Regions from separate parts of the Homo sapiens genome. Here all the other regions are linked to region 3. The links come from fine-mapping of genetic effects on gene expression. A gene starts in region 3. Each other region holds a variant in brackets. All regions are shown on one strand. Distances are between the middles of the regions.

Evidence for each region.
Region 1: its variant is fine-mapped to the expression of LASP1 in whole blood (TOPMed, PIP 0.98).
Region 2: its variant is fine-mapped to the expression of LASP1 in whole blood (INTERVAL, PIP above 0.99).

The regions. Positions count from the first base shown.
Region 1 is chr17:38,886,400-38,896,789 of GRCh38, reverse strand. It overlaps LASP1 (LIM and SH3 protein 1), which reads right to left. Exons shown (of 7, transcript NM_006148.4): 3 at 6,286-6,370. Among named protein-coding and RNA genes, the nearest start is that of LASP1, 22 kb to the right of the region's middle. RefSeq lists enhancers at 1-186, 187-708, 709-1,230, 3,317-3,890. The variant T/C (reference allele first, on the strand shown) is at 5,245.
Region 2 is chr17:38,903,109-38,913,498 of GRCh38, reverse strand. All of the region lies in intron 4 of LASP1 (LIM and SH3 protein 1), which reads right to left. Among named protein-coding and RNA genes, the nearest start is that of MIR6779, 6.7 kb to the left of the region's middle. RefSeq lists an enhancer at 628-1,587. The variant T/C (reference allele first, on the strand shown) is at 3,302.
Region 3 is chr17:38,864,318-38,874,707 of GRCh38, reverse strand. LASP1 (LIM and SH3 protein 1) reads right to left here and starts at 4,650. Exons shown (of 7, transcript NM_006148.4): 1 at 4,450-4,650. The coding sequence starts at 4,518. It overlaps TRC-GCA2-2 (tRNA-Cys (anticodon GCA) 2-2), which reads right to left and starts at 7,063; the gene lies at 6,992-7,063. It overlaps TRC-GCA4-1 (tRNA-Cys (anticodon GCA) 4-1), which reads left to right and starts at 5,345; the gene lies at 5,345-5,416. RefSeq lists enhancers at 2,787-3,388, 4,401-4,550, 6,041-6,220, 5,796-6,396, 6,397-6,999, silencers at 3,991-4,090, 4,611-4,920, 6,341-6,440 and a cis regulatory region at 6,658-7,271.

The DNA of each region.
Region 1 (10,390 bases), 22 kb before region 3:
CTTCTGAGTGATCTTGGGCCAACGACTTCACATCTCAAGACTCAGTTCCCACATCTGTAAAATGGGGACCATAACGCCAGTCACTCCAACCCACGATACAGACAGTGGCTCTAAAGCAGCAGCGCACTGTGGAGGGCCAGTGTGAAAGTGCTCTGTCAGCAATGAAGTGCTGAACGAGTGCCAGTCCCCCACTCCGTCCCCTGCTTCCTGGCTTTGCAAGGGTCAGGCCCCTAATCCAGGGGAATAATCGCCATGGCGACGCTGCAATGACATCAGCAGGTTCCCAGGATCGGGAACTGCTTCTGCCTCCCCCTCCCTGTTGGGGAAGGATCATTCATTTCACTGCTAACATAGGAGGCCCACAGAGGGTAGGGGTGAGGGGTAGGGGCTGAGAAGGGAGGGAGCCTGGGATCAGCACCACCTTGCTGTGTGTTTCTAAGCAAGTCAGTTCCCCTCTCTGGGTCCCCTGAAGGGAGCTGGCTAGCTGATCTCTAAAATCCCTCCCATTTGGAGTCTGTGACCATTTTAAAGCACCTTCAGACCCTGACTATGGATAATCAAGACAGGGAGGCTCTTTGAAAGGTCTTTGGGTATGGAAGGGGTGGCAGAAGTGAAGGGTGGGGGGCCAGGGGTGTAGGGAGGGCCCAGCCCAGAGCCCCTCTTCAGGGCTCCCTTCTTGCCCTGGCAGGAGTGCTTGCCCCTGTTGTCTAGGATGGCTCACCAGGGTGCTGTGGGGGTCCCTGTGGAGGAAGGGACCTGCCCAAGGTCACAACCCAGTTGTCGCTCAGGCCAGGATGCAACTCAGCGCTTCGGTCAGAGGACCCCACTTCTGGGAGATGCCTGGGCTCCCAGAGGACCCCACTCCTGGGAGATACCTGGGCTCCCATTTTGGAAACTCTGCTGTCAGGCCCAGGACTGACTGACATCTGAGGCTCCTGACACCCAAACAACCACCATCCGTGAAACTCTAATTTTTCTGTCAGTTCTTAGTTGTTCTCCCTGGATCTATCTTGCTTCTCATCCCAGCAGACAGGAGGTGCAGATCAACATTTGTTGGATCATGAATGAATTGAATGCAGACACGTAATCTCCAAACAAAGCAGCATAATTGGGAAAACAACTGCCTTGATGACCCAATATAAGAAGAAGGATCATTACTTAAAAACAAAAATTATGCCAGGCACGGTGGCTCACGCCTGTAATCCCACCACTTTGGGAGGCAGAGGTGGGTGGATCACCTGAGGTCAGGAGTTCATGACCAGCCTAACATGCTGAAACCCCATCTCTACTAAAAAAAATACAAAAAAAGTTAGCCGGGCGTGGTGGGCGTAATCCCAGCTACTTGGGAGGCTGAGGCAGGAGAATTCCTTGAACCTGGGAGCCGGAGGTTGCAGTGAGCTGAGATGGTGACACTGTACTCCAGGCTGGGCGACAGAGTAAAACTCCGTCTAAAAAAAAAACACAAAAATTAGGCTGGACTTAAAAAACAAAATGGCTCATGTCTGTAATCCCAGCAGTCTAGGAGGCCAAGACAGGTGGATCACTCGAGCCCAGGAGTTCGAGACCAGCCTGGGAACATAGTACCCCATCTCTATTTAAAAAAAAAAAAAATTAATAAAAATCTCTAAAAAAATACAAAATTTATTGAGCGAAATACAATTTCCACTATTATGTGCCTACCATGTGTTGGGCCAACATACTTTGTAACCCATCCCCTTCTAACAAAAAAGAAACACTAGTTTTTAAAATTTAGGCAGGGCGCGGTGGCTGACACCTGTAATCCCAGCACTTTGGGAGGCTGAGGTGGGCAGATCACTTGAGGTCAGGAGTTTGAAACAAGCCTGGGCAACATGACGAAACCCTGTCTCTACTAAAAATACAAAAATTAGCCGGGCATGGTGATGCACGCCTGTAGTCCCAGCTATTCAGGAGGTGGAGGCGAGAAAATCGCTTGAGTCTGGGAAGTCAAGGCTGCAATGAGCCAAGATCACGCCACTGCATTCCAGCCTGGGAGACAGAGAGAGACCCTGTCTCAAAAAAATACAAATTTAAAAAAAAAATTAGACACACACAGATGGAGAGGAGAGCTGATGGAAAGGGCCGGGGCTGGAAGTCATGGTCAAAAGGTTGCTGTGTGTATTTCCCAGCTTCTTCATGTCCAAGTTCCATTTCCTCTCCTTTCCGGGAGAACAGTAGTAGCAAACACTGAATGCTGACTCCACGTCAGGAATCTTTAAATGCTTAACATATCCTCCTATCTCACACCACCCTCTGGAGAGAGGTAATCCACATTATTCAGACGAAGGCACTGTGCACAGAGGTTAAGCAACTTGCCCAAGGTCACACAGCTGGTGGCAGCAGATGCGAGATTCAATCTCAGGCCAGCTAGTTCGGGTAAGAGTGATACTCTACCACCCGTGCTGCTTACAAGATCCGAGGAGGATAGAAACCCCCCTGTAATTTCCCATGACCCCATCAAGGTGAGTTGATGAAGGAAAAAATGGAAGAACAGTCTACTGGCACTTGGCACTTCTGCCTGGGCTCAGGGCCATACAGACACCTCCAGCTCAGTCCCACCCCAAAGCCACTGCCTCTGCTCAGCCTGGGGGTGGGATAGGAGCAGCAAGTGAGAAGGGGGGCTGGGGGTCCAGCTGCCAGCCCCCTGCCTCAGCCAGGCCTGGGCAGGACCACCGAGAGGGTCATTTCTGGACAGTTCTGTGGTTACCTCCTCCACAGGGGAGGCTCCAGGTGTCCCAGACACCCAAAGTGCCATTTTGGAGACCAATATAGAGATGGGAAAATAAATAAAGCTGAAATAGCCTGGGCAGCTTCCCAGAGACAGGGAAGGGCAAGGCAGGCCCAGAAGGGGCATGGAGAGAAGCCAGCTGACCCCGTGGGGTGAAGCTGGGTGAGCAGAAGAGGCTCCCCCTTCCCTTCCTGCTAGCCGCAGGCAGCTCTCTCCAGCTCTGCCCCCACGGCAGCCACAGGAACCAGAACCCGTCACTGCTCCAGCCTGGCCGGCTCAGCCCTTCCAAGCCTCAAAGCATCAGGCCCAGCCCCCAGCTTGAGGCAACTGGGTTTGCTGTCCTCATTTTACTGGTGAGGAAGCAAAGCTATGAGAGGAAAGACAGTCTGAGGCCAGTCTCAGACCACACAGCTGGTGGGCGGTGGGAAGGGAGACAGAACAGGCCTGCAAAAAGGGCAGTACCCTTTCCTCCCCTGCCTATCCTGCCCTCAGCCCCCAACCCCCGAGGACCCCCACCTCAGGGGAACAGAGCCGTGCCCTTAGTGCAAAGCCCTACCCTAATGTGGCACCCCTCAGAGCATACAAACAGGGTCGGTACACTCCTGCCCATGGACCCATCTCTAAGCTTCTTAAAGTGGGGCCAAAAGTCCTTATCAGAATCACGGGGGAGTCAAAATGCAGATTCTTGGGCCTCACCCAGAGCTGCCAAGCAGAAGTCCCTTGGGTGGGGCCTAGGAATCTGCATTCCAACAAGCCCATCCTACTTGCTGCTGACTGGTGCATCCTGCAGGGTGGGAGCACAGGGCTCGGTGCCTGTGCCATCAGCACTGTTCAGAGCAACGGGCTCCAGGGCCAGGTCATGGGACTTGATGTCTGCCCCTGTCCCTGGGCTCTGCACAAGCAGGGCAGCCTCTGTAAACCTCAGTTTCCCTATCTGTATGATGGGGATAATAAGAGCCCCTCTTTCATCAGGTGGCTGTAAGGATTAAACAAAGTCAGGCATACACGCATACATGCGTGCATGCTTGCACACACACACACACACATACACGCGTGCATGCGTGCACACGCACACACACACACATACACACACGGACACGCTCTGGCCCTCAGTGAGGCCCTAATGAAGAGTGACCGCCATTTTCATCTCCCAAGAGGCCCCCCCGGGAACCCAGCAGGCTATGACCCTGGGAAGCAGGGGGCACAGGCCAGGGACAGGAGCCCCCAAACCCAGAGCGTGGTGCTGGCTTCCCCTGTGGGGGGCAGAAGCAGCCCCTGCCAACAGCATGCCCTGCCCACTTGCTGCCCATCCTGGGCAGGGGGAACAACGTGGAGGTGCTTCCTCCTCAAACCCCACCCCTCGGGGATAGGGTGCCGGGGCAAAAAGAGCTGCAGCCACGCTTTTGTGGAACTGACAAAGGCTGAGGGGTTTGAATTTCTCCCCTGAGAAGGGTGTGTGTGTGTGTGTGTGTGTGTGTGTGTGTGTGTGTGTCTCCAAAGACCTGCTATCTGCTCCCAGCACCTCTTCTCCGAGGTCCTTCTGAGCCCCTCCACCTCTGGCCCCCATGGCCCTTCCACAGGGCAGGGAATTGAAGGCAGGAGTCAGGGCCTGGCTAGAATCTGTAAAATATGGCCAGGCAGGCTGTGGTGTTCCCTGCTTCCTAGTAACTTCAGCTTCTGTGCCGCAGGTGGGTGGGTGGCAGGTGTGAGCTGCTGCTCTCTTCCTCTGTGAGCCTCAGGCCCTACCAGGGCTGTGCAGCATCAAGGGCCCCAGACTTGGGAGTGACAAGACCAGGGCCCAAATCCTGGATCCGCATTCACTCACTCGGTTCCCCTATCTGTAAGACAGAGACGCTGGGTCTTTTACCTTCTCCCAGAACCCAGTCAAGGATAAACAGGGGAACTAACTAAAGGCACTTGCTGAACTACACAATTTCTTGCTTTTCCTTTTTTTAGAGACAGGGTCTCACCCCATCACCCAGGCTGGAGTGTAGTGGTGCGATCATGGCTCACTGCAGCCTCCAACTCCTCAGCTCAAGTGATACTCCCGCCTCAAACTCCCAAGTAGCTACGACCACAGGTGCACACCACCATCTCTGCTCGTTTTTTTTTTTAGGGACCAGGTATTGCTATGTTGCCCCAGCTGGTCTCGAACTCCTGGGCTCAAGTGATCCTCTTACCTTGGCCTCCCAGAGCACAGGGATTACAGGCGTGAGCCATGGCTCCCAGCCCTAAACTACAAAACTTCTCAACAGCATAAGGAACTATCATGTTTATTATTAAGGTAGAGACTGTTTCTTGGGGAGTGGATAGTCCCTGGGTTAGACAAACCTACATTCAAAGCTGCCAGTGTCTATTTCCTCTTCTCTGAAGTGAAGTGATGCTACAGCTGCACAGGGCTGGGTGAGGATTAAACGAGCTCACACGCCGGGAGCACTGAGCCCTCCATCGTCAGCTGTGAATATTATTATTGCCTCTCCTACCCGCAGGACCTCAGC[T/C]AGTCCCTCAAAGTCGCTGGGCCTCAGTCGCCTCATCTGTAACAATGGGGAAGATAGCACCTTCCTCACAGGGCTGCTGGGAGGATGCTGAGAGAGGGTGCATGGAAAGCCTGACAAAAGGCAGGGTCGGTTCTCCCTGATGGACCCGGGCAGTCACATCAAGATCAGGCAGCAGGAGTCCCCTCTGGAGGAACTGGGAGAGATCCCCTCTGTGGCCCGGGTGGAACCTCTGCAGTCTTCTCCCGATCCTGAGTGGGTCCTGGGCGCGCTGCCCACGTGGTAAATTCCCCTACATGTATTCTCGCGCCTAATCCTTCATCGGCTGAAGCCCCGCCCCACCCCACCCCACCTCATCACTGGCCAGGTTTGTCCCAGGAGCCCTCGCACCCCCAGGCAGGGTGGGTCAGCTGTTCTGTTCTCAGGACTCCAGACCCTTTGCTTATTCCTCCGTGTCCCCTAAAGACCAAGTTCTCCCTAGGCCTGGAACCCGTCCTCCCCTCCTACAGGGGCACATACCTCCCACTCAGCAGTGTTCTGGAAAGTCAAGCCAAAGGAGACAGAGGCGGAACAGCCCCCTATCCTGTGCCCCCATGGCAGGGCCCCCTTCACACCTTGCCCTTCAGTGGGTGGAGGTTTGGGACGCGGCTATAGAGGGTTGGTTGCCCAGCCTCAGACTGGCATGACCTGGAGGGGCAAATTCCCTGGTCCTCCCCAAACCCCTCCTTTGTGGGTGAGTGTGAATGGGGAAGAGGGAGGGGAGAGTGGCTTCCTGGAGGAGGTAGGCTTTAGGGAGCCCCAGAGCGGGCTCAAATAGACACCCACACCTCTCCAACCCCCTCTAGGTAGGAAGTGGGAGAACGCTCTACCCTGCTCCTTTGATAAAGTCAGGGGTGGGGTCAAGATTAAAGGCAATGCTAGGATTTCAGCACCTTGGCCTTGCAGAGTAACCGCAGGGGAAGGTACTCTTGCCAAATGCCGACCTTACAACTTCCCTCCCCAGCATCCCTCCCTGCCAGGCCCCAGCACCGCCCAGCCCCTCACCTGACTCTGGAGCTCACTCTGTTGCTTGAGGCGAAGGTTTTCCGGGGTGTCCGCCACCATGGTGAAGGACTGCTTGGGGTAGTGTCTGCAGGACAGAAAAAACAGAGTGGGGGTGACTCTGGGGGAGGGGCAGGAGCCTCTGGGCTTCTCACAGAGCATGCCCTCCTGGGAACTTCGTCCTATGCTTGGGCACGCCCTGGCCCGGCCCCACAGGAGGACTTCAGTGTCCACCACCAAGGCCGAGGGGAGACAAGCGTTTCTCAGACTCAGCTGGGACTGGCTGACCTGGGAAGACGCAGCAGGCATCAGTGATGGGCCAGCCAAGGAGAACTGTCCTGAGCGAAAGGATGGCCACTGGGCCACTCTCTGAGGGTTGAAGGTTACCCTTGTTTGGGGATAATCCATGCCTTGTGCCTACCACACATGGAGGTCGAGGCAACTGGGCCCGGCTGGGGGAAGATGGGCACAGGTGAGTCAGGACTAAGCTTTCAGCTAAGACCAGAAGTGGAGACCGACCATGCAGAGGAGAGCAAGGGGGAGACAGAAAAACAAAGGGACACACATATCCAGGGGGACTTCCTGGAGGAAGTGGTGAGAGAGAAAACACACGGTTAAAGTGGTATTTCAAACGGTTAACAAGGTCCAACCTAACTGGAGGGTAGGTGGGAAGGCCAGCTTGAGGACAAAAAAGGAGGTCACCTGAGGGTGACAGGTAAAATACAGGTTGAGTATCCCTTATTGGAAATGCTCAGGACCAGACGTGTTTCAGATTTTGGATTTTTTCTCAGATTTTAGAATATTTGAATATCCATACTGAGACATCTTGGGGATGGGACCATTTCCTATATACCTCATACACATGGCCTGAAGGTAATTTTATACAATATTTTAAATAATTTTATGCATGAAACAAAATTATTGACTGCTTTTTGACCTATGACCTATCACATGAGGCCAGGTGTGGAATTTTCCCTTGTGGCATCACGTCGGCACTCAAAGCTTTGCATCTTGGAGCTCTTCAGACTCTGGATTTTTGGATTAGGGCTGCTCAATCTATAGTAACAACAGTGAATTAGGCCGGGCGCAGTGGCTCATGCCTGTAATCCCAGCACTTTGGGAGGCCGAGGCGGGCAGATCACGAGGTCAGGAGTTCAAGACTAGCCTGGTCAATATGCTGAAACCCCGGTCTCCACTAAAAATACAAAAATTAGCCGGGTGTGATGGCGTGCGCCTATAGTCCCAGCTACTCAGGAGGCTGAGGCAGGAGAATCGCTTGAACTCAGGAGGCAGAGGTTGCACTGAGCCAAGATCCTGCCATTGCACTCCAGCCTATGTGACAGAGCCAGACTACGTCTCAAAAAGAAAAAACAAAACAAAACAAAAAAAAACAAACAGTGAATGTTCTCCCTGTGCTAAGGGCTTATGTGCCCTAGTTCACCGAATTCTCACAGCCACCTGTGTGACTGGTATTCAGCGTACCCCTTTGACAGATGGGAGAACTGAGGCCAGAGAGGTTAAACAACATGGCCAAGACACACAGGGATCCAGATTTGCGCCCAGACGATTTCTTCAGTTCATGCTGAACTTAGCCGCCAATTTCCAGGCCCAGCACAGCCTGGTCCCCAGGAAGAGGGCCTGGCTTGGAGGCAGCCGAAGCCACGGCAACCCTCAGAGCCTGCAGAGACCTCCAGAAGACTCTGGTCCAACTCCCTCATTTCAGAGGAGGAAACGGTGTGCTGGCACCAGGCACTTCTCCCTTAGCAGTCTTCATAATTAACTTATTTATCACATCAATGTATTGTCTTCTCTCTCCACTACTTCTCTATGAAGGGAGGGATTTTGGGGTCTCTTTTGTTCATTGATTTATCTCAAGTTCCTAGAATAGTAGGCGATGCTCAGTAAATATTTGTTGAATAAACAAATGTCAGGCTGGGCATGGTGGCTCACGCCTATAATCCCAACACTTTGGGAGGCCAAAGCAGGTGGATCACTTGAGGCCAGGAGTTCGAGACCAGCCTGGCTAACATGGCGAAATCCTGTTTCTATTAAAAATACAAAAATTAGCCGGGCACCGTGGCGCATAGCTGTAATCCCAGCTACTCAGGAGGCTGAGGCAGGAGAATCACTTGAACCTGGGAGGTGGAGCTTGCAGTGAGCCAAGATCCGCCACTGTACTCTAGTCTGGGCGAGAGCAAGACTCTATCTCAAAAAAAAAAAAAAGTCACGCCAGGAATTGAAGCTGGTGCAGGACTAGAACTCAGCCCTTCTCCATCCCTCTCTCATCACAAGGTCCCCTAGCAAACCAGCTGCAGGAGAGACAGGCAGCTCTGAGCCATGTGGTTTGTGTGTATGTGCTGCTATGAGAAATGTCTGGGGGTCTGCATGGGCCCCAATTACTTCAGGGACTGGTGGGTGGCTTCTCCAAGCCGGAGCCCGTCAGGCCATTTTTAGCCCTGGGTGACCACAGCCCACCACAGCTATGACCCCTGCAGATCCCTGACTCACAGGCTGCACCCAGGTAAGCCATAGATGGCCTCCTGGGACCTCTTCCTAGGCACGTTCCACCCAAAACTGACACACTCGAGAGCTAAGAACGAGCTGCCCCTCTGCTCGGCATGTTCTCCTGCCGCCCACATGGCCGTGCATCAGAGCTACCTGTAAACAGGCGACTTCCCCTGAGGCCACCACTTGTGAAGGGCAGGGCTCAGGATTTGGAGACCTCAATCAAAGGAGCATAACTTGACAGGGCCCAGTGCAGGGCTCTGGCCCTGCCACTGACTTACTGGGTGACCTTGGCAAATCCTTTTTCCCTTGGGCCAGTTTCACTGTCCCGGATCCAGATGATCCTAGCGGTGCCCGTCCCCCAGCCCTCACCTGGGTCCTGGCCACCCAGGTCAGCCCAGACTCGCAGTTCCTCCAGCAGAGGAAGGGAAGATGAGGAAAGGCAAACACAGGTGTCCGCAGCTGGCAACAGACGTGGCCTGTGATGAATACGTGGCCAAGTCTGGGGTCGTCCCCGTGCAGCCAGGGCCACCCACAGCTGAGGAGCTCCCTTCAAAGTTCCTGTACAATTCCAGGCCAAGGGATGATCAACCACGAGTCTGTTCCTAGAGACCAGAAAGGGAAGATCTCTAGCAGGGCTGGCAGGCCCTGAGGCCCTAAGAGGGAGCGCTTCAGAGACGAGACGACCCTCCTCCCAACATCAGAGCCATTCTGCAGACTGTATGGGCAGGGGCTGTGGTGAGGCAAGCACATGGAAGTAGAGGCACATGTGGCAAAAGCAGGGTGGGGGAGAGGAGACCTCCGGGCAGCTCTGGCCCAGCACTCGAAGACTCAATTCTGAGAAGATGAGGCTGGTTAGCATTTGATGGGGAGGGCTAGAGGCAAGCAGGGCAAACACATCCTCCAGACCCGGTCTGCAAAACCCTGGGGTTTCTCATTGGCCAGAATGCACAGGGTTAAAACAGGCCAGGCTGGGTGCAGTGGCTCACGCCTGTAATCCCAGCAGTTTGGGAGGCCAAGGAGGGCAGATTTCTTGAGCCAGGAGTTTGAGACCAGCCTGAGCTACAGAGCGAGAGCCTGTTTTTATTAAATAAATAAATAAAACAGAGGCCAGCTCCAGTGCCCAAAGACCGCCAGACAGGTGCACCTGACGTGCCCCACCCATTCCACAGTCTGAAGTTCCTACACACACTGCACTGTGCCTCACACACGATGAATATATAGATGTGCCCTCTGCACCGATGGGCGCCTCCAAGACACCCAGGCAGCAGCTGCATTGAGGCCATGTCCACACACCCCCTGCACCCCACACTGTGTCCCTCTGCTCACCCTACACCCACCAGACGGTCTCGGGAGCCCCTCCAACATGCAGCAGGCACCTTGGGTGGGGTTGGCAGGTACTTCATCCTCTTCAGAAGCACCCTTCCCCCTAGTCTCAGCCCCCGACAGCTGGAGTGCTAATCCCATCAGAAGGGAAGTGGGGGTGAGCCAGCCCAGATGTGAGCTCAGCTTAATTTGGCAGGAGTGAGGGAGGATTTTAATCCTGCATCAGATTAACTAGATTAAAGAGGCACTCCAGAGCCTCCAAGCTCCTTCCCCTGCC
Region 2 (10,390 bases), 39 kb before region 3:
AGTGAGTGGCCCAAGATCACAGATTCCAGAGCCTTGCTCTTCATCAACAGGCGATTCCACCTCTTGTGTGCAAGATGTCGTGGGTACTACAGCCTAGGATGCTCCGCTGAGAATCCCAGCCTTTAGGGATAAAAACTGCCAGACCCTCCCTGAGGGCGGGACATTGTCTTGGATGGGCTCCTTCTCGGGTCAGGTTCCAAAAATGAGCAGAGAGGCCCAAAGAAGTCATATCCCTCAGGACCACCCCACTAGGCGGGCATGTGAGGCTCCAAGCCTTCAAGTCAGTCTCTTGCCCCCACAGTGCTCTACTGGCTACAGAGTCCCCCACCTTGACCACCACCACCCAGGAGTCTTGAGTTGGGCCTCATGTTGTTTGAGGGCTGTGACTGTGCCTGCCTGGGGCTGGCTGCATTAGCCATCAAGGTCAGGAGGGCAGGGGAGGCAGGTGCCCACCAAGCCAAGCTGGGGAGGGGAGGGAAGCTGCACTCTGCCCAGACCCCTTGGGTGCTATGGTGGAGGACTTGGCCAGTTTGGGGGAACCAGAGCCCCTGCTACCTCCATCAGAGACCTAAGCAGGGTCAGCCAGAGGAAGCCCCACCTCCACTACCAGAAAGAAACCTCAGGGTCAACTGGCCCATTTGTGTCCAGAGCCTCGGCGCCAGCTCAGTCCTCTTAGCCAACTGAGTTAGAGAGAAATGGTCGTTCATTCACCTTGTCTTCTTCAGGCTGAGTCCCATGGTGGGACGAGAACACCGGCCTCGGTGTTCCCTGCTAGATCCAGATCCTGATTGGCCCCAGGCTTCCTCCACCTCCCATCCCCCATGGCACCTTCTCCAGACACAAGCCCTTTCCTCCTCTCAGGTCTGAAAACTGTCCAGATGGCCTTCTGGGGCTGTGCCAGACTCCCAAAGACAGGCCTGCCAAGGTCTCCTGGATCTCAGCCCAAGAGCCAGACCCTGGAGAATCACGGGTGACTCCTTGTGCTTGCGGCACCCTGACCCTGTGGCAACCAGATCCTGCGGCACCCTGGCCCAGCGGCACCCTGGCCCTACCCTGACCCTGTGGCACCCTGGCCCTACTCTGACCCTATGGCACCCTGGCCCTACCCTGACCCTGTGGCACCCTGGCCCTGTGGCAATCTGACCCTGCGGCACCCTTGCTCCCTCTCTCCTTCCTCCAGCCGCTCCATGCGGCGTAAGGCCCACACTTTCACATCTCATGTGCCTGGATCCAGCTGCTCTAGCCCCACCTGGGCCAGCCCAGAACCGGCCCCTGGGCCCATATGGGACAGGGGAAAAGTCAAGGTCCCTATTCCCAGGCACGCATATATCAGGTGGGTTTTGAGGCCTGATATATGTAGTTCTTGAGGCAGCAAGAACTACACCACAAGAAAGGCGGGTGGTGAGGCCGAGCACGGTGGATCACGCCTGTAATCCCAGAACTTTGGGAGGCCAAGGTGGGTGGGTCACTTGAGGTCAGGAGTTCGAGACCAGCCTGGCCAACTTGGTGAAACCCTGTCTCTACTAAAACTACAAAAATTAGCTGGGTGTGGTGACGGGCGCCTATAATCCCAGCTACGCGGGAGGCTGAGGCAAAAGGATAGCTTGAACCTGGGAGGCAGAGGTTGCGGTGAGCCAAGATCATGCCACTATACTCCAGCCTGGGTGACAGAGTGAGACTCCGTGACTCTGTCTCAAAATGAAAAAAAAAAGACAAGTCATAAAGCCTCACATACATATCTCATTGCCTCAAATGGGAAAAGACCTCCAGGTGAGCCTATTTATGGGGGAGGGAGCCAGCCCTGGCCAGACTGACCACGCCCAACCCCACTAGGAAGGGCACCAGGGCACTCCCAGACACGGGGCCCATGCCCTGTTCTCAGATCCCTAAGACAAGGCCAGAAGTGACTCTCCCAGCCCACTCCCTCAGCAGCACCCTGTCCCCTGGCTGGGGTGGTGGGGGAAGACAAGGGAAGGAGATACCAGCCAGCAGCCCTAGTTGATACACTTCATGCATATCAGCTCGCCGAATCCTCCCCACAAGTCTCTGAGGTAGTCAATGTCATATCCCGATATCCAGAGAGGCTAAGGGACCTGCCCAAGGTCATCTGGACACATGGTGGTAGGGAGGGAAGGGATTAAGGTCAACCTGGAGGCAGCCCACCCTCGCCACTCAAGGGCAGTCCAGGCTTCTCTCATCCTTCAAGGTCCATCTCGGCACCTCATCCTCGGGACGCTGGCCCTGGCTCCAGGCTGAACCCAGGGCTTCCATAGCACCTGGGACTGGGCTGTGCTGTTGGCGGGTGGTGTCCCCCACCCCCACTGGATGGAAGCTCCTGGAAGGTAGTGAAGGAGCCAGTTATTCTGATGCAGGGGTCTCCCACAGCACTGCACACCCCAGGCCTCAGGACTGGCTGAAGAGAACAGACCAGGATCCTGGAGACCCTTGAGCTTTGCTTCTTAACATGTGGTCTCCTGGCCGGGCGCGGTGACTCACGCCTGTAATCCCAGCACTTTGGGAGGCTGAGGCTGGTGGATCACCTGAGGTCAGGAGTTTGAGACCAGCCTGGCCAACATGGTGAAATGCCGTCTCTACTGAAAATACAAAAATTAGCTGGGCATGATGGCAGGCACCTGTGATCCCAGCTACTCGGAAGGCTGAGGCACGAGAATTGCTTGAACCTTGGAGGCGGAGGTCGCAGTGAGCCAAGATCACGCCATTGCACTGCATCCTGGGCAACAGACTGAGACTCTGTTTAAAAAAAAGTGGACTCCAGACTACCTGTGTCTGACTCAACTGGGCTCCTTGTTAGAATGCGGGTTCTGGGGCCTTCCAGAAAATCTACAAAATCAGGGCTGGGGTTCTGGAATATGCATTTTGGAAAAAAGCTCTCCAGGTAAGTCTGAAGCAGGCTTCAAGTCTGAGAACGGGTGGTCTAGAGCAGAAGCTGGGAATCTATGGTCCATGGACCAAATCCAGCCCACAGCCGGCTGCTAAGAACGGGTTCCACATTCTTTAATGCTTGGCAGGGGGCGGTGGAGGGGGGGAAGAAGAACCAAAAGAGGAATAATATTTCATGACACATGAAATTTCTCTGAAATTCAAATTTCAGCCTCCAGAAATAAAGTTTTATTGGAACACAGCCACACCCACTCAATTACCTCTTATCTGTGGCTGCTTTCATGGCAGAACTGCAGAACTGAGCTGCTGCCACAGAGGCCATATGGCCACAAAGCCTGAGATACCTCCTACCTGGCCCTTTACAGAAAAAACTTAGTGACCCTTGTTTGCCAAAATATTC[T/C]GACGGCATACTCCTATTGGTTAAATGTATTTTAGCACAATCTTCCTGAATTATGTGTATTTTATAAGTTACATGGAAGTTATCACTTGACAAATATAGAATGTATATTGTAAAACTTGCACCAAAGAATGAATTGTGAAAGTATGAGATGGCCAGGTGCGGTGGCTCACACCTTTAATCCCAGCACTTTGGGAGGTCGAGGTTGGCAGATTGCTTGAAGTCAGGAGTTCAAGACTAGCCTGGCCAACACAGTGAAACCCTGTCTCTACTGAAAATACAAAACTTAATCAGGCATGGTGGTGGGCACCTGTAATCCCAGCTACTTGGGAAGCCGAGTCATGAGAATCACTTGAACCCAGGAGACGGAGATTGCAGTGAGCTGAGATCGAGCCACTGTACTCCAGCCTGGGAGACAGAGTGAGTCCATCTCAAAACAAATGAATGAATGAATGAATGAATGAATGAATGAGATGAAAAAGAACCAGAACCAGGAGTTAGAGTTTTCTTCCTGTAGGAACATGCTGCCTGTCCCACACCTTGATGACCCCTAGTGGGCTCTATCCTCTTCACTTTTCTTTCTTTTTTTTTTTTGAGATGGAGTCTCGCTCTGTCGCCCAGGCTGGAGTGCAGTGACACAGTCTCGGCTTACTGCACCCTCTGCCTCCCGGGTTCAAGTGATGCTCCTGCCTCAGCCTCCTGAGTAGCTGGGATTATAGGCAACTGCCACCACGCCCGGCTAATTTTTGTATTTTTAGTAGAGACAGGCTTTTACCATGTTGGCCAGGCTGGTCTTGAACTTCTTGACCTTGTGATCTGCCCACCTCGGCCTCCCAAAGTGCTGGGATTACAGCCGTGAGCCACCGTGCCCAGCCTCCTCTTCACTTTCCAGAGAGGAAACTGGTGGGGACGGGTACAACCATAGAAAGGTGTGAGGGTTCAGGGTTTGAGTGCTCCATGAGGATGGGGGAGGAAGCGGGACATAGAGTGAAGAGAGTGACAGCTCTCCCCCACCCTCAGGGGAAACTCAGAAAGCAGGACACCAGGACAAGGAGAGAAACTGGTCCTTCCCAGACGGGCTCAGGCCTGCAGGAATTTCCTCCAGGCCCTGGCAGGCACCTAGCTGGAAGCCAACTTCACTTCCTGTTCCCTAGAATGCTGGCCTGCCTTTTCCTGATCCGGGAAAATGGGGTGGGAGTAGTGGGGTGGGAAGAGGAGGAGAGGCAAAACCTGCTGTTTCCTGGAACGCCCCTGCCCCATCAGGGCTGTCCCAGCCTGGGCAGTCCCCTTTGGGCATCCCCTCCGCACAACGTCTCTGCTGCCTCCTCTCCCCCTTGGCACTGGCTGTGCACAAAAGGCAAGAGCAAGCACGTGGCCAGGCAGGGCTTACACGTTAACAGCTGGAAACACCTGCATGGTTGCTGCTCCTGCTGGCTGAACAGCCAATAGTTCCTGCAGCCCGGGCTGGGGGCACAGGGAGGGCAGTGGTAAGGGCCTGGACAGAGTCTGGGGGGAGTCCAGTCTGGACGCAGAGGGCAGTTTACTTAGGGGTTTGGGTCAGGATCAGTCCCTCCTTTCCCGGCCCCCTCCCTTCAGGCCAGAGCAAGGACCGGCACCCACGTGGCAGCACAGGCTAAGCCTGTTCCTGAGGTGAGGCAGCCAACCCTGGCCAGGCTGAAAATCCAACCGACCCCAGCATCCGCTGGGAGGGGCACTCCAGGTGATGTTCTCACAGACCCAGCGCAGAAGGTGAGTCTCCCGAGCCCCACTCTCTTAGTGATCCCTGTCCACTGGTGTTGGTGGCGGGGAGGGCACAAGGGAAGGGGACACCCCTCCTGAGGCCTCCAGGCTCACGAGGCACCTGCCCTTCCAACTTTTGTTCTGAGGTGGGAAAGGTCAGCTTCCCTTGTTTCCTTTCTGCTAAGGAAAAGAGCCTGCCCCTGAGAACCTGTGACCAGGGAGGGAAGTGCAGACACGGAATGGACAGGGGCCTGCCCTGGGCCCCGAAGGTGCCAGCAGGGGGCCTGCAGGGACAGGTGTCCTTGATGTTGGGGGCCCAGATGAATGTGTGACAGCTTCCCTGGACATGACGCTATCTGCATTAGCGATGGGGTGACAGGGAGCCTTTTCCTCTGGGAGGAGAGCAGGTCTGGACCCCACAGGCTCAGTCCCTTATGATGGGCTGCACTGTCACCAGACCAATGCCTCATCCTTAGGGGAGCCGTATGCTTACCTACATGACCTTGGGAGTCACTTTCCCCTCTGGGTCTCAGTTTCCTCATCTGTAAATAAGGCCATGGTACCATCTGCTCCCAGGCGGTCCTGCAAACCCTGACCAGCTCTAGGAACCTGAGCAAACTCTAAGCTGAAAGCAAGTATGGACACATGGGTATTCCCATAAAGGGCTGGGGAAACTGATCTTGCTTCTTAAAAAGTCATTACACATGGATAAGTGTATCTAAAGTTACGGCTGGCTGACCCGACGGCTGGAGGAGTAGCTGCCTGAACCCAGGACACCCTTCCTGGGTGGCTCTATCAATGTTAACAACCTCTGCAGCTGTACAGCTCTTCACACAGCTTGACCAAGCTCTTCATACCCTGACAATCATTGCCCTAAAAAATGGGCCGGACACGCACACTTTCATTCCCATCTTCCAGAAGAGGAACATGAGGCTCAGAAATTAAATGACTTCCCGAGGCAGAGCTTTCATTGCTCAGTAACAGCCAAGGCTGGTGACACAAGGACAAAATCACAGCTAGACAGGCCCTTTCCTGAGAACAGGTGTGGAGCAGGGTGACCACACGCCCAAGTCCCAGTTCATGTCTGCTGCTCAGGGATAAATTTCAATGCACCCCTTTTCACTCTCAACAAGAATGATAATCAGAAAGTCACCCTAACTCGAGAGAGAGGGACACCAGGCATGCAACTCAGGACAGGCGGCACAGAGCGGCTAAATGGGCTGAGAAAAAGTGAGGCTCAGCTCCTTCCAGCCTGGGCCCACTTGGATAAAATTTCCAAACCCTCAGCTTCCTCTCCTTCCCCTCGCCAGCAAATGAGGAAATTGTGTTATTACTTTCCTGACCCACCTACTGGTTTGTTAAGCAAATAGGCACATGAGGGGGATGTTAGCACATTCAGAAGGCAAGGAAACATTTCCCAGCTTCCAAGGGCCTGGCTCATCCCTGCTCCAAGCTCTGCAAAGTTCTGGCCTTCAGAGAGCCCTGAGTGAGGAGCGCCCTAAGCCCAGACATGTCAGCACAGCCCCCAGCCTGGAAGCTGTCCTGGGCCTCTGTGGACACAGGCCACACTCTACCTGTGCCCATGAGGTCCAAGTACATGTGGGTTCAGGGGTCCAGGCCTAAGGACCCTCCCGACTCAGCCAGGACCCTACTAGCTGGGACTCCAGGATGACAAGTTAGGGTCCATGACAAAGCTCTGCTAGCTGATGTTCTGTTTTCTGACCCCCCTGCTCTCCCAACTGTGGTGGAAAATAAAAGTCTGACTCTCCATACGGTGCTCCTCACATGATTATACATCACAGTGAACGAGGGAACAGCAGGCTCTGGGTGGAATCATCAGCTCACCAGCTAGGGTCTTTTTTTGGGTGCCCTTACATGCATTACTCATTTCCTTTTCTTTTTTAACTTTATTTATTTATTTATTTATTTATTTTGAGACAGTCTTGCTCTGTCGCCCAGGATGGAGTGCAGTGGTGCGATCTCAGCTCACTGCAACCTCCACCTTCCAAGTTCAACCAATTCTCCTGCTTCTGTCTCCCAAGTAGCTGAGACTACAGGGGTGCACCACCATGCCCAGCTATTTTTTTCTATTTTTAGTGGACGCGGGGGTTTGCCATGTTGGTCAGGCTGATCTCAAACTCCTGGCCTCAAATCATCCACCTGCCTCAGCCTGCCAAAGTGCTGGGATTACAGGCCTGAGCCACCGCGCCTGGCCTCATTTCCTTTCCTCAGCCAGCCCGAGAATACTGCCATTTTACAGATAGGGAAACCAAGGCTCAAGATGTGGGCAAACAGTGGGTTAAGTCAGAATCCAGTTCTAACATCAGAGCCTCAGTTCTCAACCACCATGCAATACTGCTCCCCATCAGAGACTCACAATATTTTATTTATTTATTTTTTAGAGACAGGGTCTCGCTCTGTCACCAAGGCTGGAGTGCGGTGGCGTGATCATGGCTCACTGCAGCCTCAAACTCCTGGGCTCAAGCAATCTTACCACCTCAGCCGCTCGAGTAGCTGGGACTACAGGTGGATGCCACCATGCACGGCTAATTTTCTTTCTTTTTTTTGTAGAGATGGTATCTTGCTATGTTGCCCAGGCAAGTCTTAAACTCCTGGCCTCAAGCAATCCTCCCACCACAGCCTCCCAAACTGTTAGGATACAGGCGTGAGCCCACCATGCCCCAGTATTTTATTTTTAAAACAAACAAAAGTCTGTACTCAACTTCATTAGTAATCACAGAAATGCAATCTAAAACCATCGGCTATCACACTCTACACGATCAAAATGCTAAAGTGAACATATCTGAGCACATGGAGCAAATGAAACTCATCTCTGCTGGTGGGAGGGTAAATCAGTGCAGCCACTTGGAAAATAGTTCCGCATTATCTCGTAAAGTTGAAGGAGCACACTTTTTTTTTTTTTTTTTTTTGAGATGGAGTCTCACTCTGTCGCCCAGGCTGGAATGCAGTGGTGCGATCTCAACTCACTGCATCCTCTGCCTCCCAGGTTCAGTGATTCTCCTGCCTCAGCCTCCAGAGCAGCTGGGATTGCGCCACCGAGTGCGCCACCACACCCGGCTAATTTTTTGTATTTTTAGTTGAGACGGGGTTTCACTGTGTTAGCCAGGATGGTCTTGATCTCTTGACCTCATGATCCACCCACTTCGGTCTCCCAAAGTGCTGGGATTACAGGTGTGAACCACCACGGCCCGGCCCAAGGAGCACACATTCTAAGATGCAGCAGTTCCAATGTACATAGACCTCAGGAGATATGTACAAAAATGTCCATAGCAACTGGAAACAGTACAAATGTCCACCAGCAACAGAATCAATAAAATGTGGTATAAACAAACAATGGAATACTATATAGCAATGAAAAAGGATGTACTACCGCTACACACAAACATATGGATGAATCTTTAAACCCAATGGTGTGTAAGAGAAGCAAGATACACAAAATTACTCTGTGTTCAAAATCAGGAAAAGCAAAACTATAGTGTTTAAGAATACATAATTACATACTAAAATTATAATGAAAAATACATGCTTTCAAAATCAAACTAGAGGATTGTCCAACAAACCTGCCTTCAGAGTATTTTACTCTGGGGACAAAACTTTGTTTGACTATTTACTATTGATTAGGCCCAGACTCTAAAGACTGAAGCTCATTACAGAGTATAAAATGCTCATTATTTCTGGCCAACTGAGATGCAAAGCATTTCTGCCTGCAGCAAAGATATCTTCAAAGTTTATGGTTTTATTTTCCTGTAGGACAATAGCCAATGTGTAACTAATGGTAGGCCCTTAACCATTTCTGTAGCTAAATGTATCCAGTACTCTCTTTTTTCCTTTTTTTTTTTTTATTTTTGAGACGGAGTCTTGCTCTGTTGCCCAGGCTGGAGTGCAGTGGTGTAGTCTCAGCTCACTGCAACCTCCACTTCCCGGGTTCAAGCAATTGTCCTGCCTCAGCTTCCCAAGTAACTGGGACTACAGGTGTGCACCACCACACCTGGCTAATTTTTGTATTTTTAGTAGAGACAGGGTTTCACCATGCTGGCCAGGCTGGTCTTGAACTCCAGACCTCAGGTGATCTGCCCGCTTCGGCCTCCCAAAGTGCTGGGGTTACAGATATGAGCCACCTCGCCCGGCCCCAGCACTTTCTTTCACAGACTAGCATTTACCTCTGCCTCTCATATTCCCCAGTTTTAATCTCTAGCTGGTTCCCTCATAATTAAATAAAGATATGATAAGTACTTACTACATGGGAGTTATATTTTTAACACTGTGAACACTGGGCTCTTGACAGGCATACAGTAATACAATGTATGGTATACCTGCCTGGTGAAACAGGTGTTTATTGTATATGTTACTATGTGTCATATTTCACACATAAAAAAAGTTTTAAGGACACAAAATTGTATACAGAAAATCAATATGTAAGTAAATAAAAGAAGAGGCTCCAGTAAAGTGACTAAAGTTTTCCATACTTGAACACTGCTAGAGCTCATGACAAAAGGCCAGGATTCCTAACATGTAACCTTTATCCCATAGCATGGACCCATCAAAAGGCAACTCTTCAAATGCCTTTAATGATGACACAACTACTCACCATAGATGTGTAATATACTGGCCCCTTTCCTCACTTCCACACATTCTCAGTACTAGACAATGGCCAAACTTTTCTGCCAAACTTCACTTTATGACCCTTCTCCGGCAACAGTGTAGAAAGCAGACAAGTGTGCCTTTAAAGTATTGATAACATTGACAACATAACTGGGTGTGATGGCGTGTGCCTGTAATCCCAGCAACCTGGGAGTCTTAGGCCAGGGTTCACTTAAACCCAGGAGTTCAAGGCTGCAGTGAGCTGTGATCACGTGACTACACTCCAGCCTGGGCAGCATAGCAAGACCCTCTCTCTACAAAAAAAATAACAATTAGCTGGGCATGGTGCTATATGCCTGTAGTACCAGCTACTCAGGAGGTTGACGGGAGAGGACCACTTGTGCCCAAGAGTTCGAGGCTGCAGTGACCTATGATCGTGCCACTGTACTCCAGCCTGGGCAATCTTGTCTCAAAAATAATAATGATGATAATAAGAGTGATATCATTTATCCCATGCCAAGCACTTGGCATGTTCCTTGCAACCACCTGTCAAAGTAGGGCCTACTGTCCCATTTTTACAAATGAGGAAACTGAGGCTCAAAGAGCCCTGCCTGGCCCCAGAATGACAGAAGCTAGGATCTGGGCCCTTACCATCTCTTCCTACCTCACTGTCTCACCACTTAGCAAGACTGAAGACAGACTGCACTTATCCAAAGCAGACACCCCAGAGGAGATCAGACACTTGTTTTT
Region 3 (10,390 bases):
CTGCAGGGGGCTCTGAGCAGAAACATGGAAACCAGTTACTATGAAGCACAAGTGTCAAGTGGAGCTGCAGCCACTGTCTCCCAGAGTGCTGGAAGGTCAGGAGAGGAGGCCGTTCCACCCCTAATGCTTGGCACCTCCAGCAGCTTCAGGCGACTCCCCTACCCTCTCTGGAGGAAGGCCCCAAGGTTCAAGAAAACCCACCAGCTCCTTCCACTGTGTCCTTTTTGGGGTAGGAAAATTGTGGGGAGGGGAGGCAGAAAATGGCCAGTCCCTCCACAACCGCTGTGAGCCAAGCCTGGACCCTAAGATGAAAGAACTCCTGCCTTGTCTCAATGGGGTCTGGGGAAGGACACTGTCAGGGAAATATGTCCAGAGGACCCCACAGTGACCCCGTCTGCCTCTGCCCTGCCCCATGGGCTCTGTCCCAGAGCAAGAGCCCCCCTCTTTTAAAGGCCCCAGGCAAGATGATTTCAGCGAAGCATTCCTGGGCCTCAGGACTCAAGGAAACTGCACCTCGAGGCATGCACCTCTGCCCCTTCCTGCTGCCTGCAAAGTCCATGGCTTCCCTGTTCACAGAAACCAGACAGACCCTACCTCTGCTGCCTGTTAGAGGCCTCTCAGCCTGGATCCGAGGCTCCAAGGCAGGGTCATCTTGATCTTCCCTTGCCTACCTGCAACCCACTCTAAAGAAAGGTAAACAGGCTGGTAGGGGCAGAAGCCTGCAAGGATACCCCTCACTTGGGACAGCCTGTCCCTCTGTGGCTCTGGGTTGGGGGGGATGTGGCAAGCTTCGTGTCACTGTGCCTGCAGCCTGGCACCTTGGCCTCTGAACCCAGGCTACCTGGGGTGGCCATGACTCAGGGATGGATTATGAGACCATCTCTTCCCTTCCTGTTGCCCAGGGTTACAGTTTCTCCCTCCTGCAGAGGCAATGCCAGCCCCACCCTGGCCGGGGCACCAGCCTAGCTTGGTTGGCCACCTGACCCGCTGGCTTAAAGGCATAGATCTTTGCTGCACCTCCACAAATTCCGAGGAGGACAGGATTATTCCCAGTGGCCCCACGCCCCCATACAAGACCCCAGGCCCAGAGCATTCCTCCAGATAGGGTCAGGAAGGGATGGGACCTACTTTTGGCACAAATGAGATGTAAATAAAATATAAATATGTATAAATAAAAGTACTTTCTGCAAACACACTGGCAGAAGAGCTGAGCAGAAAGAACTGTGGATGTGAATTTCAGCTCTAAGAGAGGGAGATGAGCCACATGGGCTACCTGAGCCTCCATTTATGGAGTGCATCGTTTACAAGAGCGAATACACCTACTTTGTGAGGCTGCTGTGAAGACTGAGCCCAGCATATCGTGATAACTAGTAGCTATTATGAAGGGATGGTCACAAGATGATGGTGGGGTACTCTAAGCTTCAGCTAGCAAAACGGGGCACCACAGCTGTGAGGACTTCAACCCCCTCGAGTGGGGAGGGAGCGCTGAGACAAGCAGAGGCAGAGAGCCCACCCTAACAGGGGATTCCAGGGGAACTGGCAGCAGACCAATCCTCTACCTCCACCTGTTTTCAGAAACCTGGGGAAGCAAGCCAGGAAAGAGGGACGTGGCGAGGTTCTTGACAACACAGCTCCCTAGATACAAAGCAGGTGCACAAAGTAGGTGCTCAATAAATATTTGTTGAATGAGCAAATGAGGTCACCCTGTTTCTCCCCCAGCTCTAATCCCAGAAGTCCTCTGGAGAAGCAAATCTCGACCTCCTTCCTCAAACACTGTCATCAGCAATACATATTTATCCAGCTTGCAAAGCATGCTGGGTACTGCAGGTTGGGGGCAGGGTGGCCTTCAGAGGTGACAAGGTTTTTACCCACCTATGCCTTTGGGAGATAAGGCTCAGGGAGGAGAAAAGGCTGAAACCAAGGACACACCCTGTGCTTTGGGCCACGTAGTGGGCTGAGTACCATGGGGGATTGTAGAGAAACGGGTGAGTCTAATTTGACTCTTTTGCTGTAAATGGGAGGCCTTGGGAAGTTGGTTAGCAACTATGGGACTGAAGCTGCCTATGGGACTGAAGGTTTCCCCTCCTCCCTGGTCACAGCCCAGCATCCTCCAGGCACTGGCTCCCCATTCCTGGTCCTATCCTTACTGCCTGGAGCAGGTGGAGAGGAATAGGTCTGATACCTGGATATTTCAGGTCTCCTGCTCAGTACAGGGGGCGAGGTCTCTCCAGGGCCACTTCCTATAGGGAGAGTTCTAAAAAGAGGAAGGAATCACCAACTCCCACTTCCCTGGGCAACCCCCACTTGAACGTCCTCTTCCAGCTAGGGTAAGAGAACTGGGGAGGGCACCCTGCCCATCCCTGCTCCCCTCCCCTCGGGTACACGGCACTGAAGGTCTTTCCAAGGGGAGTGGTGTGGAGCTGAACAGAGCATCCCAGAGAGGTAGGGAGGGCATAGTCTATACAGCACCCTCTTTAGCACTCAGGGACTTTAGTGCACTGCCCCACCTTTAAGGAAATGACATCATCATACCCATCTGACAGATGGTGAATACTGAGGCCTAGAGACATTCATAAAACTGGTGGGAGCAGACCTGGAACAAGGACCCAGTTTCCCAACTCCTGGAGTGGCAATCCTGCCTTCATGTTTTGCTTTTTCCTTATACGGGTCAAGTGCCCACTGCCTCTTCCCAATTCATGACTGTGGAGAAGAAGGGGACCACAGGGAACTCAAGATGCAGAGGCCAAAATCTCTGCCACGAGGGGCGGGCGAAACCCCAGTGTGCAAGGACAGGTACATTCTCAAGGGGAGACTTCATTATCTGATAGCTCTAAGCTCAAGTCCTGCCCAACAGCGGCTGGCATGGTCATGGGGAGATCAACAACTTTCCTCGTGCCCACAATATACCCCCTCCTCTCCTCCTGCCCAGTCAAGCCCAGGACCAGGAGGAACAGTGACACAGCAGCGGCCCCATATGCCCACACTCCCCAAGAGCAAGTTCAAATATCTTTCAGAACCTCCAACCCCACCTCCTCACGCTGACTCAGAGGCCAAAGGTCACTGAGGAAGCTCACACACCAAGGGGGAGGGGAGAGATAAGGTGTCCAATAAACTATCCTCTCCTGAACAAAACCTGGCTCCAGGTCAGTAATGAACTTGGCCCCAGGGCTCTATACCCCTCTTTCATCTAGTGTTCCCACCCTTGCACCTCTCTTCCATCCAGTCCTCCCAGCCCTCCCAGTTCAGATGGAAAGGACAGAATACTTGGACTTGGAGCCAGCTTTGGGTGGTGGATGAAAGACGCGGTGAGGAAGGGCACAAAATCACAGAGGCCTCCCCTCCAGACTGGGGAGGGGATGCAGAGGGGCAGGTTTTACCTTAGGATCTTACGGAGCTTACAAGAGAACAGGATCCTACCCTAAACTGTACGGGAAACACCCAGTTCTACTCTCCAACCCCCCTCCAAAAGTCTAATGGCAACCAGATGAACAAGTCCAGCATTGGGGAGACAGGGCCCCCAGGGGACACTGAATCTCCACAAGGCCACCCTCCCCTCCCCCCAATACCTCCCCCTTTCCTCGGCTTCCCCAGAACTCAGCCAACCCCACCCTCCATTGGAGAAACCTGCTTTGAAAAGTTAGCTCTTTGTTCTTCCACACGGTCTCCTGGCTCTGAGCACAATTTCAGGAGATCTCAGCTAAGCACCCTCCACCCACCCTACTCTGCCACCCAACCCCACCCGGCTCAGGCTGGACGGCCCAGCACCGGGAGTTGGCTTTTAATTGGAGGTGGGGGTTGGGAAGCTGTGGAGGAGGTCTGCGAGTCCTTTAACGACTGAATCCAAGGGGGTGCAGGTCGTTCAAAAACGGGGCTCTTGCGGCAGAGCCCGGGTCCTTACCCAAAACCCCCCGCATCAGATGCCACACACTCGCAGGCTGATAGCCCCCGCCCCGCCAGGCCAGGAAGCCAGGCCACCCCCGCCGGAGCGGACGGTTTTGCAGGGCCCCCCAGCCTCTGCCCCGCCCCCCCGCCCCCTCCACCAGCGCCCCGCGCTTCCGCCTACTTGGCGCTCGGCGCAGAGCGGAGAGGGAGCGGCCGTCTCTTCTCACTCTCCAGGCCGTAGGGGGCGGGACTGCACCCCTAACCTTCCCCCAACACACCCCGGCGCCTGACTTCCCTGCTCCTCTCCCGTCCTCCCAACCCCGGGACACAGAGCCCACCCCTCTCCAGCAGCGGCTGCCCGCTACGCGTGGACTTCCCGCCTCGCCCCAGATCTCCTGGTTTTCAGACTGGGATGTGTCCCCACACCCCATGACACCGCCCGCTCGCCCTCCCTCCATTCTCCTGGGATCGCGGGGATAAGGCGGCAAAGACCCGGCCCTTCTCTCCTCCCTGGATTCGGAGCACTGCGGGGGATTGCAAAGACGCGTCTCCCGGTCCCGGGCTCACCTTATCCAGACAGTTCACCTTCTCCGTGGGATACACGATCTTGCCGCACCGGGCGCAGTTGGGGTTCATGGTTCCGAGAAAAGCTGGGGCGGGGACGCCTGAGCTCACGCGCGTCCTGTTCCCCGAGGCGAGCTGGCGGGAGGCGGCCGCGGCTGCAACTACACAGGCAGCAGCGACGGCGGCTGGAGCTGGGGAACTGGCCTCCGCCTCCGCCCTCCTTCCCCTAATAAACACAGCGGGGAGGAGGGGCTGCACTGGGGCGGGCACGCGCCTCGGGCGCGGGCAAGGGCACGCGCAGCGAGGCGCGCTCTCCGGGCGACGTGGGGCTGCGCGGGGGCGGGTTCCTGGGGGGACGGCGGGGCCCGCGGTGCTGGCGCCTCAGCGCTCTCAGGCTGACTGCGCCCGGTGCCCAGGGCCCTTCCCCAGCCGGAGGCGGCGCAGAGGCGAGCAGGCTGCACATCTGGGGCGCCCGGGCTGCGGGAGGCGGGCTAACCCCTCAAGCCCGTCGAGGGTGGGGTTGGATCCTCCTGAACGCTGGAACTGATTCACCGCATTCGGGGACTTTCTACCCGGCATGAATCTGCGGACCGAACGGGGACCCCCTACCCTGCCCCTCTTAGCTCTCTTCCGGCCCACACCCTTTCCCACATTTGTGGGGCGGAACCCGTCCCTCCCTCTTGGACCCTGCGCGCTGCCGGGCCCGGGCTAGTGCTTCCCTCTCGAGCCCCTGCAGTGCACCTTCCCGGGGTTCCCCGGATGCGGGCACCGTCTGCGTTCAGCTTGACCCCTTTTTCTCCAGCATTCCTTTCTCCTTCTGTTACACCACTACTCACAGTGTAGCAGCTGCAACAATGCTTAGCACCCAAGGAGCCGCCTCCAGGCGCTGTAGAGGCGCGGGGGTATAGCTCAGTGGTAGAGCATTTGACTGCAGATCAAGAGGTCCCTGGTTCAAATCCGGGTGCCCCCTCAATGGCTTGGTTTTTCCTTCCCCTTGTTAACCATCTGTTTTTCATTCTTGACTCACATTTTAACATTGGGTCCTGACTAAAAAAAAAAAAAAAAAGAAAAGAAAAAGTATCTTCCTCATTTTTCAACCTTAGCAGAAATCTTTCGGTTTTACTTTGTGCTCAGCGGGAGGAGGGGGTGGGTATAAAAGCTGCGCGACCGCATTACTCGCGCCAGAGGTGTAGGGATTTCTGCGGCCACGGGCGCCAGCCTCAGATGGGTCAGACAGTTCGAGGTGCCGGGTTTGAGGGACAGGATGTTTCCAATGGGGGTAGGGAGACAGGGGAACGCCTCAACTTGGCGTTCCTTTTGGGGGTGGAGGGTGGGTCAGGCGAGGGAAACCCATAGACACAGCCCTTCTCCAACTTCAACTTTCTGTATTAATGGTGACATGGACGTGCTGTGTTCATCCTTGACTATTAATGTACAAAAGTAAAGTTATAACCCAGTGCAAACTGAGATAAACGAACACAGTGTTTCTCAAATTTGAACGTGCATCAGAATTACCTGCAGGGCTTGTTAAAACACTGCTAGTTTCTGATTCTGTAAGGGGGCCCCGAGAATTTGCATTTCTACCAAGTTTCCAGGTGCCTCTGGTGCTGCTGGTGTGGGGACCACATTTTAAGAACCACTGAAGTAAGAATAAAAGGCCATGGAGTTTCATAACCTAAAGATGGGGACAAGTATCTGCTGGCTGCGTGCCTGACAGGGTCACTGTTGGGCCGGAGGAAAATGGTAAGTGTGACGGGAGACAAGGGCGTCCCCCTCGACTAGGTTTTGCCCAAAAAAAGGAAAAATAAAGGAGAAAGGAAGAGGCGTGCTGCCTGGGTCAAAGGGCAGCTGCGATATTTTAAACCCGGAATGTGGTTGTGTCATTCCTCGGACCCCGGGGAAACGCGCATTTTTTTCTCCTGGCTCCTATTACTGTGAGCTGTATCTCTAGGCTGAACAGAGAGATCACAGATCAGCAGAGCTGCGGTTCCGTGCAAAACCCAGGAGGAACCAGTTTTACCTCTCCTTTAGGCCTTGAACTTTCCATGTATAGCTTATCAAGCCAAAGCCCTGCCTATGAGCTGAGTCAAGAAGGAAGAGGGGAAAATTGCTCGCTGTCTACCTTCTATCTGTGTGCCCTGTCCTGTTCGAGTTCGCGAGTATATGAAAACCTCTGAATTTGGATTACTTCTCCTAGTTTTCATAGTCAAGTACGAACTACTGCCCCGTCCAAGACATATTTTTTACCCCAAAACAAATTATAATTAACGTTAAACCAATGGGCATCGGAGATGGAAATCGATACGCGCCTTTGTTCTCCAACTGAGAGTACTGGTGCGCTTATCGCCACTTGGGGTATGAGGGCTCAGATCCACCTAAAGGCAGCCTCTGGTTGCTGTTCTCTCCCTCTAGGGTACGGGAATCCTTTCAAGGTGAAAATTAGGTAGGTGGAAGATACAAACGACACCTCCCGTGAGTTTTGCATTCAGAACTCGCTGACTCAGGTTATTCCTGGATGGCTGTGAAAAAAACTTAAAGAAACCCGAGGGGGCACCCGGATTTGAACCGGGGACCTCTTGATCTGCAGTCAAATGCTCTACCACTGAGCTATACCCCCTCTGGCGGTGGCTCTCTGGTAAATTGTTTTTACATCGATTGATCCCAAAATTTTCATACTTTCACCATTCGTTCAAAATTAGTGTCTCTTTGCTAGATTATACTGAAATTACCAATGAGGAAGGAGAAATTAAAAGACTAGGCCAAGATAGGCCGGGCACAGTGGCTCACGCCTGTAATCCCCAGCACTTTGGGAGGCCGCGTCGGGCGGATCACGAGGTCAGGAGTTCGAGACCAGACTGACCAAGATGGTGAAACCCACCCCCCCCCCCCCCACCTCCGTCTCTACTAAAAATACAAAAAATTAGCCGGTAGCGGTGGCGGGAGCCTGTAGTCCCAGCTACTCAGGAGGCTAAGACAGGAGAATTGCTGCAACCCAGAACCCAGGAGGCGGGGGTTGCAGTGAGCCGAGATCATGCCACTGTACTCCAGCCTGGGCGACACAGCGAGACTCCATCTAAAAAAAAAAAAAAGGCTAGGCCAAGACGTGGTGGCAGTTTGAAAAGCGTGTGAATTTAGGTGCCAATCTGCTTTGTCTAGGTTCAGTTCTTTTTTTTTTTTTTTCTCCAGACGGAGTCTTCCTCTGTAACCCAGGCTGGAGTGAGTGCAGTGGCGCAATCTCGGCCTCCCGGATTCAAGCGATTCTCCTGCCTCAGCCTCCCGAGTAGCTGGGATTACAGGCGCCCGCCACCGCGCCCAGCTAATTTTTGTATTTTTAGTAGAGATGAGTGTTCCACCATGTTGGCTAGGCTGGTCTCGAACTTCTGACTTCATGATCTGCCCGCCTTGGCCTCCCGAAGTGCTGGGATTACAGGCATGAGCCACCGCACCCCTGCTTGGTTCAATTTTTGTTTGTTTGTTTGTTTGTTTTCCATTTTGTGGAGATGGGGGCAGGTGGTGGGTGAAGGAGGCCGTCTCCCTATGTTGCCCAGAGACGGAATTTCGCTCTCCTTGATCAGTCGGGATTGCAATAGTGCGATCTCGGCTCACCGCAACCTGTGCCCCCCAGGTTCAAGCAATTCTCCTGCCTCAGCCTCCCGAGTAGCTGGGATTACAGGCATGCACCACCACGTCTGGCTAATTTTGTATTTTTAGTAGAGACGGGGTTTCTCCATGTTGGACAGGCTGGCCTTGAACTCCCGATCTCAGGTGATCTGCCCACCTTGGCCTTCCAAAGTGCTGGGATTACAGGCGTGAGCCACCACACTCGGCCTAGGCTCAATTCTTTATCCACAATCCCACTCATCTCTCCCCGCTAGCAAGTCAGAGAACAACCTCCTGCAAAACTGGATAAAGTTTTTCCTTGGTCTCTCCAAAAAGAATACGAACACGCCATTGCACTCCAGCCTGGGCAACAAGTTTCGCTCTCAACAAGAGCGAAACTCCGTTGCAAAAAAGAAAAAAAAAAAAAACTAAGTAAGAAAGAAATCCTGCAATATGCAATAACGTGGATGAACCTTGAGGATATTATGCTAAGTGAAGCAGGCCAGTTACAGAAGACCAAATACTGCATGATTCCACTTATATGAGGTTTCTAACATAGTCAGACTCCCAGAAGCAGAGAGTAGAACGATTGTTGCCAGGGGCTGGAGGGAGTTGCTGATCAATAGGTCTAAAATGTCAGTTCTGCAAGATGAAAAAACTCTAGAAATCGGCTGTACAACATTTTGCCTTCAATTAACAATACTGTATTGTATAGTTGAAAATCTAAGAGGGTCTGCCAGGCATGGTGTCTCATGCCCATAATCCCAGCACTTTTGGAGGCCAGGGCAAGAGGATCACTTGAGCCCAGGAGTTTGAAACCAGTTTGGGCGACATGGTGAGATTCCCATCTCTACAAAAAAAATTTAAAAATTAGCCAGGTATGGTGGTGTGTACCTGTAGTCCCAGCTACTTGGGAGGCTGAGGCAGGAGGATTGCTTGTGCCCAAGAGGTCAAGGCTGCAGTGAGCCAGGGTGACGGAGCAAGACTCTGTCTCAAGAAAAAAAGAGAGAGAGAGAAGCCAGTTGGGAATCTATTGTAATAATACGGGTCAGAGATGGTGGTGATGTCTTAGACTACAGTGTTTTATTAGTTTTATATTGCTGATATAACAAATTACAGTCTATTTGCATAAAACAACAGAAATTTATTATCTTCACAGTTCTGGAGGTCAGAATCCCAAAATCAATTTCACTGGGCTGGCTGGGCTCGGTGGCTCATGCCTGTAATCCCAACACTTTGGGAGGCCAAGGCAGGCAGATCACGAGGTCAGGAGTTCGAGACCAGCCTGGCCAATATGGTGACATCCCTTCTCTACCAAAAATAGAAAAATTAGCCAGGCATGGTGGCTCACGCCTGCAGTCCCAGCTACTCAGGAAATTGAGGCAGAAGAATCGCTTGAACCTAGGAGGCGGAGGTTGCAGTGAGCCGAGATGGTGCCACTGCACTCCAGCCTGGGTGACAGAGTAAGACTCCATCTTAAAAAAAAAAAAAAAAAAAAATCCACAGGGCTAGAATTAAAATGTTAGTATGACTGCATTCCTTCTGTAGGCTTTAGGGGAGAATCCGTTTCCTTGACTTTCCCAGCCTATAGAGGCCGCTACATTGCTGCCTCATTGCCTCTTCCCCAGTTGTCAAAGCCAGCAGCATATCATCCTGTCTCCGTCTAGCCTTGGTTTCCATGCTTCCATGTTACCATCTCCTCTCTCTGTGACTCTGATCCTCCTGCCTCCCTCTTGTAAGGACCTGTGGGATTACACTGAGCTCACCTGGATAATCCAGGATAACCTCACATCTCAAGATATTTAATTTAATCATATCTGTAAAGTTGCTTTTATCATGAGAGGTAACATAGTCACAAATAGATTCACAAGGAGACTGGGATGTAGACATGTTTGGAGCGTCATTATTTAGTCTATTACAAGTAGGAACAAGTAGAACAGCCGAGCTAGAGAAGAATGCAGGTGGCCAGGCACAATGGCTCACGCCTGTAATTCCAGCACTTTGGGAGGCCCAGGTGGGCAGATCACCTGAGGTCAGGAGTTCGAGACCAGCCTTCTCAACATGGCAAAACCCCACTCTACAAAAAACACAAAAATTACCCAGGTGTGGTGGCACACACCTGTAATTCCAGCTACTCGGGAGGCTGAAGCAGGAGAATCAATAGAACCCAGGGGTGGGAGGTTGCAGTGAGCCAAGATCGCACCCCTGCACTCCACCCTGGGTGACAGAATGAGACTCCATCTAAAAAAAAAAAAAAAAAAAAAAAAAACAAAAACGCCAGGCGCGATGGGTCATGCCTGTAATCCAAGCACTTTGGGAGGCCAAGGTGGGTGGATCACCTGGG